2 linked regions of the Homo sapiens genome follow. The protein of the gene in region 2 purifies or fractionates together with the protein of the main gene of each other region. This does not show direct contact. Each region holds a gene or a part of one and is shown on either strand. Other genes may lie near its edges.

Region 1 (3,809 bases), on a different chromosome or scaffold from region 2:
CATGTGCCTGTAGTCCCAGCTACTCAGGAGGCTGAGGCAGAAGAATTGCTTGAACCTGGGAGGCGGAGGTTGCAGTGAGCGGAGATTGTGCCACTGCACTCTAGCCTGGGTGACAGGGTGAGACTCCATCTCAAAAAACAAAATGAAATTTTTTTTTCTTAAATCATCTCAAGTTCATACTAAAAAAATCTTCTTGTCTATTCAAAATTTAAAACCCTTGGGTCCCCGACTTCTATGAGCAAGAAGCTAGTTGAAAAAGATTTGTACGTTCCAAAGGGAAGGTACAACACACACTTCACAGGTGGTCAAGGATGATCATTAAAACAATGGATGGGAGAGTTCCTTCCAAATAAATCAGGGTCCAATCTCCCCTACCTCCAGGCCCGGTTGCTTACACAGAATCTGCCTAGGAGATTTCAGATTATAGATCAGCATTTGCTGCTTATCTCCCATTATTCTCTTTTTCTAGGAAGAGCGCTTACTGTGGCCCTTGTGTACTGCGGTGAGTGAGTAAGGGGAAAAGAAAAGGAAGGGAGATAGAGAGGAGACACAGTGAGTGACAGAGAGAGAGAGAGTGCGCACACACGCAGCACACAGGACACATTACTTCACAGGTCCCTGGACCAAGAGGAACCATATCTGGACCTGATTAAGAGATTATTGGGCATGTGGATAATAGGACCCATGAATCTTGCCTCTGTCACTAATCAGGGCCCAATTTCTTAGCAAAAGAATAACATAATACCGTGAACATCTTTCCACAGTTAGGTGTCATGTTTCTTTTATTTATTTATTTATTTATTTATAGATGGAGTTTCGCTCGTTGCCCAGGCTGGAGTGCAATGGCGCGATCTTGGCTCACCGCAACCTCCACCTCCCGGGTTCAAGCAATTCTCCTGCCTCAGCCTCCCAAGCAGCTGGGATTACAGGCCATGTGCCACCACACCCGGTTAATTTTCTATTTTTAGTAGAGACGGAGTTTCTCCATGTTGGTCAGGCTGGTCTCGAACTCCCGACCTCAGGTGACCGCCCACCTTGGCCTCCCAAAGTGCTGGGATTACAGGTGTGAGCCACTGCGCCCAGCCATATTTTATCTTCTATTCTCTCTTTTCTTTTTGAATAGAGATGAGGGTCTCGCTATGTTGACGAGGCTGGTCTCAAACTCCTGGCCTCAAGCGATCCTCCCACCTTAGCCTCCCAAAGTGCTGGGATTACAGGTGTGAGCCACCATGCCCGGCCAGTATCATGTTTGTTTGATTCTAAGCATGCTTTTCTACATTTTAATATTTCTAAAAGTTAGGGCCGGGTGCAGTGGCTCATGCCTGTAATTCCAAAACTTTTGGAGGCTGAGGTGGGCGGATCTCTTGAGCCCAGGTGTTTGAGACTAGCCTGGGAAACAAAGTGAGACCCTAACTCTACAAAAAATAGAAAAAATCAGCCAATTATGTTGGTGTGCACCTGCAGTCCCAGCTACTGGAGAGACTGAGGTGGGTGGATCAATTGAGCCCAGGAGGTCGAGGCTGCAGTGAGCTGTGATTGTGCCACTACACTCCAGCCCGGGCATCAGAGCAAAACTCTGTCCCAGAAAAAATAAATAAATAAATAAATTGAGTATATCTTAAGATCAACCCTTGGGCCCCCAACTTCTATGAGCAATAAGCTAGCTGAGAAAGATGTGTACCTTCCAAAGAGAGAATACTCACCCAACACACACTTCACAGGTGGCCGAGTATGATAATGAAAACAATGGATGAGAGTTCCTTCCAAATAAATCAAGGTCCAATCTCCCCTCCAAAGCAGAGAAGTTCTAGAGTAGCAGTCATTGCACATGCCTAACTTAACCATACATAAAAGTCGAAATCTCTGTTACCTCAATTGTATTATTTTCTTTTTTTTTTTTTGAGACAGAGTCTCCCTCTGTTGCCCAGGCTGGAGTGCAATGGTGCCATCTCGGCTCACTGCAACCTCTGCCTCCCGGGTTCAAGCAATTCTTCTGCCTCAGCCTCCCAAGTAGCTGGGATTACAGGAGCCCACCACCACACCCGGCTAATTTTTTGTATTTTTAGTAGAGACGGGGTTTCTCCATGTTGCCTAGGCTGGTCTCGAATGCCTGACCTCGGGTGATCCACCCGCCTTGGCCTCTCAAAGTGCTGCGATTACAGGTGTGAGCCACCATACCCGGACAATTGTAATATTTTCATTGGCAGCACCATATATGATGCTCAAAATGTTTTTTCTTTTTTTCTGTTTTGTTTTTGTTTTTTTGAGAAGGAGTTTCTCTCTTGTTGCCCAGGTTGGAGTGCAATGGCGTGATCTCAGCTGACTGCAACCTCTGCCTCCCGGGTTCAAGCAATTCTCCTGCCTCAGCCTCCCAAGTAGCTGGAATTACAGGCATGTGCCACCATGTGTGGCTAATTTTTGTATTTTTAGTAGAGATGGGGTTTCACCATGTTGGCCAGGGTGGTCTTGAACTCCTAACCTCAGGTGATCCACCTGCCTCGGCCTCCCGAAGTGCTGGGATTATATAGGCATGAACCACTGCGCACGGCCTCTTTTTTTCTTTTATCATTATTACTTTTTTTTTTTTGTGAGACTGTCTCACTCAGGCTGGAGTGCAGTGTCGTATTCTGGCTCACTGCAACCTCTGCTTTCCAAGTTCAAGTGATTCTCATGCCTCAGCCTCCGGAGTAGCTGGGACTACAGGTACCCACCACCACACCTGGCTAATTTTTGTATTTTTAGTAGAGACAGGGGTTTGCCACGTTGGCCAGGTTGGTCTTGAACTCCTGACCTCATGTGATCCACACACCTCAGCCTCCCAAAGTGCTGGGATTACAAGCATGAGCTACCACGCCCAGCTATTATTATTTTTGTAAATACAGATGGAGATCTTGCTAGGTTGCCCAGGCTGGTCTCAAACTCCTGAATTCAAGTGTTCCTCCTGCCTCAGCCTCCCAAAATACTGGGATGATACCATGCCTGGTCCACAAAATGTTCTGAAAGATTCCATTGTGACATAGTATTGTGCACTCAAACTGTCATTCAATAGACAATGCAATTAAAGGCATAAGTAATTATTAAATTCAAGCAAGATCACAGAATTTTCAAAGGTAAGACAGACTCAAAAGTCTGCCAAAACTTTTGGAGTTATCTTCAGAAGAAGCTGTTTAATTTCCAGCAATAGGTAATTCAATTAAGAAGAAGAAAAAAAAACTAAGTAAGCAAAAATGAAAGGCAAGCAAAACCCCAGTATTCTTCAATATACCTTAAAATTATACACACAATCATAAAGACAATATAGGTTAAGATAATTAACTAGCATTATGAAAAGCAGCCTGTTATCATGATGTTGCATTAACTAACCGAAGTAATTCAGAAGGATCCTAGATTCTGAATGTGAATAAGGCTGAGACTCAAACTTTATTGTGACAGACGAAAATGGTATACAATTGAATGAATAAATGTATGCTATTATTAATAAAAGCTTTATGTTTACTTTCTTCCTGCTAAAAAATTGCTACTAAATAGATGGCTTATCTTAGATTTAGTGGTATTTCAGAATTGATAAAGTATGATAGTTCAACCTTATTCCTTTAAATACCGATATTGAATTTCATCATGTAGATGTACTATTTTTTATTTATTTATTTATTATTTCTTTATTTCTTTATTTATTTTTGAGACAGAGTCTCACTGTCGCAGGCTGGAGTGCCGTGGTGCCATCTCAGCTCACTGCAACCTCCGTCTCTCGGGTTCAAGTGATTCTCCTGCCTCAGCCTTACAAGTAGCTGGGACTACAGACCCGCGCT
Region 2 (4,558 bases):
TGAGACAGGGTCTCACTCTGTCACCCAGGCTAGAGTGCAGTGGCGCGATCTTGGATCACTGCAATCTCTGCCTCTTGGGTTCAAGTGATCCTCCTGCCTCAGCCTCCTGAGTAGCTGGGATTACAGGCGCCCAACACCAAGCCCAGCTAATTTTTGTATTGTTAGTAGAGATGGGGTTTCACCATGTTGGCCAGGCTGGTCTCGAACTCCTGGCCTCAAGTGATCTGCCTGCCTTGGTCTCCCAAAGTGCTGGGATTACAGGCATGAGCCTCCGCCCCCAGCCGTGTTGTGTTACTTCAAATCAAACTCTGTCCCCACTCACGAAGTCCCTTAGGAAATGTAAAATGTGGGCCAGGTGCGGTGGTTCATGCCTGTAATCCCAGCACTTTGGGAGGCTGAGGCAGACAGATCATCCTGAGGTCAGAAGTTCGAAACCAGCCTGGCCAACATGGTGAAACCTTATCTCTACTAAAAATACAAAAATTATCCAGGCATGGTGGCGGGCACCTACATACAATTCCAGCTACTCAGGAGGCTGAGGGAGGAGAATCACTTGAACCTGGGAGGCGGAAGTTGCAGTGAGCCGAGATCATGCCACTGCACTCCTGCCTGGGCAACAGAGCGAGACTCCATCTCAAAAAAAAAAAAAAAAAGAAAATGCAAAATGTGGCCAGGCCTCCTCCAAGTACCCGGAGAAAAACACCCAAGCTCAGAGAGGGGAACCACCAAGGCCTGGCCTCATCAGGACACACCTTTCCACAAAGTCTCATAAGTCAGTAAAAGAAACACCCCCACCCAAGGGGAGGCAGAGGAGCACGTTTCTGAAACTAAGATCTGCAAGGTCCACACATTTTCTCTGTTGTCAAAGCACCGCTCAGCACTCCTTCCTGCCCTCGATGACAGGACACCCATGTTTCCCACTCCACCCACCCATAGCACCCCGGAAACCACCTCCACCACCTGAAGTTTCTATATCAGTGTTCACCTGCCATGGTTACAGCATCAGTCCCACCCTATTATTTCTCCCTCCTGATTCATGTTTACTGTATAAACACAGTGACTGCAAATATCTCTGAAAAGAACAGATCACCTGTTCTCCCGCCTCCCTAACATAAACTGTTTTAAGCTCTCCCTACAGTCTGTAGTTCCATGCCTATCTGTTTATGTTGCTGGACTAAGGCCCACCCAGGAGCAAGAATTAGGGCCCCTCAAGTATTCTCCAGACCCCTCCAAGCAGTACTTAACTGCACTCAGAGCCACCGGCTGTCTTGATGCAAACCTAGGTACCTCCTCCTAACTTTTCTTGTTTGTTTTTTTCTTTTTTTGAGACAGTGTCTCACTCTATTGCCCAGGCTGGTGTGTAGTGGCACAATCTCGGCTCACTGCAACCTCCACTTCCTCGGCTCAAGAGATCCTCCAACCTCAGCCTCCCAAGTAGCTGGGACCACGGGAGTGAGTCACCACACCTGGCTAATTTTTTTTTCTTTAACTTGTTGTTCAGAGGGGTTTCGCAATGTTGCCCAGGCTGGTCTCGAACTCCTGAGCTCAAAGCAGTCCACCCAAAGTACTGGGATTACCGTGAGTCATGGTATCCAGCCCCTCCCCCTAACTTTTCAATGGCTCTGCACTGCAATCAGAATAAAACCCAACTTCTTCCGGTGGCCCTTGGGTTCTGCAGGACCACTCTGGACTCATCTGTCACCATACTGCTCCGGCCATCCCCTCCATCCACTCATGCTCACTTTCCATTTCTCCACCAGGCTCTTTCTCAATTCTCACCCTTCTGGCCTCAGCTAAAATGCCATCTACTCCAGGCAGCCTTTCCTGACCACGCTACTGAGACTGGCCCCCTCCATTCTCCATCCCAGTCCCTCATGTGTGTTCTTCAATGTCGTTATGAAAACCTCCAATGCTCTTGTTTGTCTGCTTGCTGTCTCCCTCATGAGGCTACAAGTGCCACAGGGGAAGGAAAATGCCGTTGTGTTCACCGGGATGTCTCCAGCAGCTTAGCACAGCATAAAGTGGAAGCAGAGGAAATATAGTCCACACTACAAAAACGGAACCTCTACCCAGACTGCCCTGACTTGCTCTGGGACCCTGATGGGGTCACTTGAGGTCAACTCCTAGGCCCAGTTATCGGAGGACACTCCCAGGCCTTACAAATAACACGGAAAGCGGAAGAGCAGAGCTGACATCGTTTCCAAGGCGCACCCCTCATCAGTCCTCCTGCCGTTTCGGGGGTCCGAAGGGTCTCCCGGCACCTGGCTCAGCAATTCTTTGGGGCTCCACCTGCTCAGGCTTCCCCAGGCCCCACCCAGCCGTGGCAGCATCACCGAGATAAAGAAAGAGCTTGCGCCAGCGGCGAGAGGAGGAAGCACCGGCGGAAACCCGAGGGAGGGGCGCGTGCGGCCGAGGGGCTCCCTCCCCACCACTGACACACTTGGGCTCGCCGGGGCCAGAGGAGAGAGGGGCGTCTCCCCACAGCCCAGCCAGGGGCAGGGGCGACCCGGGGCGGCAGGGAGGAGGAGCCAGGCGCCGGCAGCGCCCCGAGCCCCGGCTCCCGGCGAGGCCGACCGGAAGCTGGGAAGGCAGGCGGCCTCGCAGGCCTGGGCCCCGGCTAGGAGGGCTGCGCCGCCTCGGGGGTCCCGGGGCGAGGTGGGCGAGGCGGGCAGACCGCCAGGGTCACCGAGCGCCAGAGCGAGTCACGGGAGTGCCGGACTCTGCCCTCCGGCGGCGACGAAACGGCCCGGACGCCGGGGCCCTGGCCTGAAGGGGGGTTCCCCGGGGATGGAGGTCTCGGGGTTCCAGACGGCCCTGGAGGGCACCCCTGTGGGGTCCGGGCAGGGGGAGGGGCAGCCGGACGGGGCCCGAGGCGACAGCGCCCGGTCCTCGGGCCGGACTCACCTCGCGGCGGGGCGGCCGAGCCTCGGTGTGCCGGAACTTGGACACCCTGAAGCGGTTCATGGCGACGGGCACGGCGGCGGACGCGTCTTCGAGGACCCCGGGCGTCGGGTCTCAGGTGCACGCTGAGCAACCGCGACTCCCGCTGCCTCGGCCCCACCCGGGACCCAATGCCGCGGTCACGCCCCCGGCGCGCCCCACTGCCAATCGCAGCCGTCTCCGGCCCCCTGGGCCACGCCCCCAAGCCCCTCTCCTTTCGCGCGCGCACCACCGGTCCCGCCTCCCGGCCAATCCAGGTACGGCCGCCCCGCGAGGCCACGCCCTGATACCGAGGGGACGGACTGGCGCGGGTGGGAGGTCACGTGGGGCGCAGCTGTCAGCCCACGTCTCCTGCGGTGCTTGCTTGCGTGGGGTCTCGGCTGCAGCATTCGCGATTTTGTGTGCAGGATTTGCTGTGGAGTCTTTGCGGTGTACCTAGCACGCCTTCCAGCACTATCTACCTCTTCCTGTAGAGAGGGGAGAAATTAGCTCCATTTCAGAGACAGGAAACCCCCGGCTAAAGGAGAGTGTAAACTGTCGGTCCCCAGGTCACACCAGTGGTAAGAGGCAGAGGGGGAACAGGGGCCCAGGTCTAAAGCAAATCCCTGTCCACCGGGCCTACTCAAAAGCCTCTGCATCCGGCCAGGCGCTCTGCATCCGGCCAGGCGCGGTGGCTCAGGTCTGTAATCCCGAACTTTGGGAGACTGAGGCAGGAGTATCCCTTGAGCCCAAGAGGTCGAGGCTGCAGTTATCTGTGACCGTGCCACTGCACTCCAGCCTGGGAGACAGAAAGAGACCCTGCCTCTAAAAATAATAATAATAATAGCTTTTAATTTTTCTTTAGTATTTATTCATTTATTTGACACGGAGTCCCTGTCACCCAGGCTGGAGTGCAGTGGCGCGATCTCAGCTCACTGCACCCTCTGCCTCGCGGGTTCAAGCAATTCTCTTGCCTCAGCCTCCCGAATAGCTGGGATTACAGGCGCCTGCCACCGCGCCCAACTAATTTTTTATTTTTAGTAAGAGACGGGGTTTCACCATGATGGTCAGGCTGGTCTCGAACGAGACTCAAGCAGTCCTCCCAACTTGGCCTGCCAAAGTGTGGGGATTATAGGAATGAGCCAACGCACCCAGCTGATTCTTGCATTTCTAAGGTTTGAAAAGCAATGCTTACATTTTATCTTAGTTCGGGCAGAAGTGTATTTACTGTGAACCAAAGTCACTTGTGGTTTATTGAAAAGGCTTTTTGTTTGTTTGTTTTGAGACAGAGTCTCACTCTGTTGCCCAGGCTGGAGTGCAGTGGTGTCATCTCAGCTCACTGCAACCTCCACCTCCTGAGTTCAAGCGATTCTCCTGCTTCAGCCTCCCAAGCAGCTGGGATTACAGGTGTGCGCCACTACTCCTAATTTTTGTATTTTTAGTAGAGATGGGATTTTGCCATGTTGGCCAGGCTGGTCTCAAACTCCTGACCTCAAGTGATCCACCTGCCTCAGCCTCCCAAAGTGCTGGGATTAGAGGCATAAGCCACTGCGCCCAGTCCAAAAAGGTTTTTAGAAAATCATCAGGTTGGCCGGGCGCGGTAGCTCACGCCTGTAATCCCAGCACTTTGGGAGGCCAA

Evidence for each region.
Region 1: the proteins of CORO7 (region 2) and LATS1 purify together in Homo sapiens (affinity purification with western blotting; one study listed by BioGRID). This does not show direct contact.

What each region holds. Positions count from the first base shown.
Region 1 is NC_000006.12:149,711,412-149,715,220, forward strand, and holds part of LATS1 (serine/threonine-protein kinase LATS1), read right to left. Parts: intron 1-3,809. UniProt on the Homo sapiens protein: Negative regulator of YAP1 in the Hippo signaling pathway that plays a pivotal role in organ size control and tumor suppression by restricting proliferation and promoting apoptosis.
Region 2 is NC_000016.10:4,413,555-4,418,112, forward strand, and holds the start of CORO7 (coronin-7), read right to left. Parts: upstream 3,043-4,558; 5' UTR 2,965-3,042; coding exon 2,905-2,964; intron 2,344-2,904; exon of another isoform or gene 2,161-2,343; intron 1-2,160. Other genes in the region: CORO7-PAM16 protein, read right to left, coding at 2,905-2,964. UniProt on the Homo sapiens protein: F-actin regulator involved in anterograde Golgi to endosome transport: upon ubiquitination via 'Lys-33'-linked ubiquitin chains by the BCR(KLHL20) E3 ubiquitin ligase complex, interacts with EPS15 and localizes to the trans-Golgi network, where it promotes actin polymerization, thereby facilitating post-Golgi trafficking.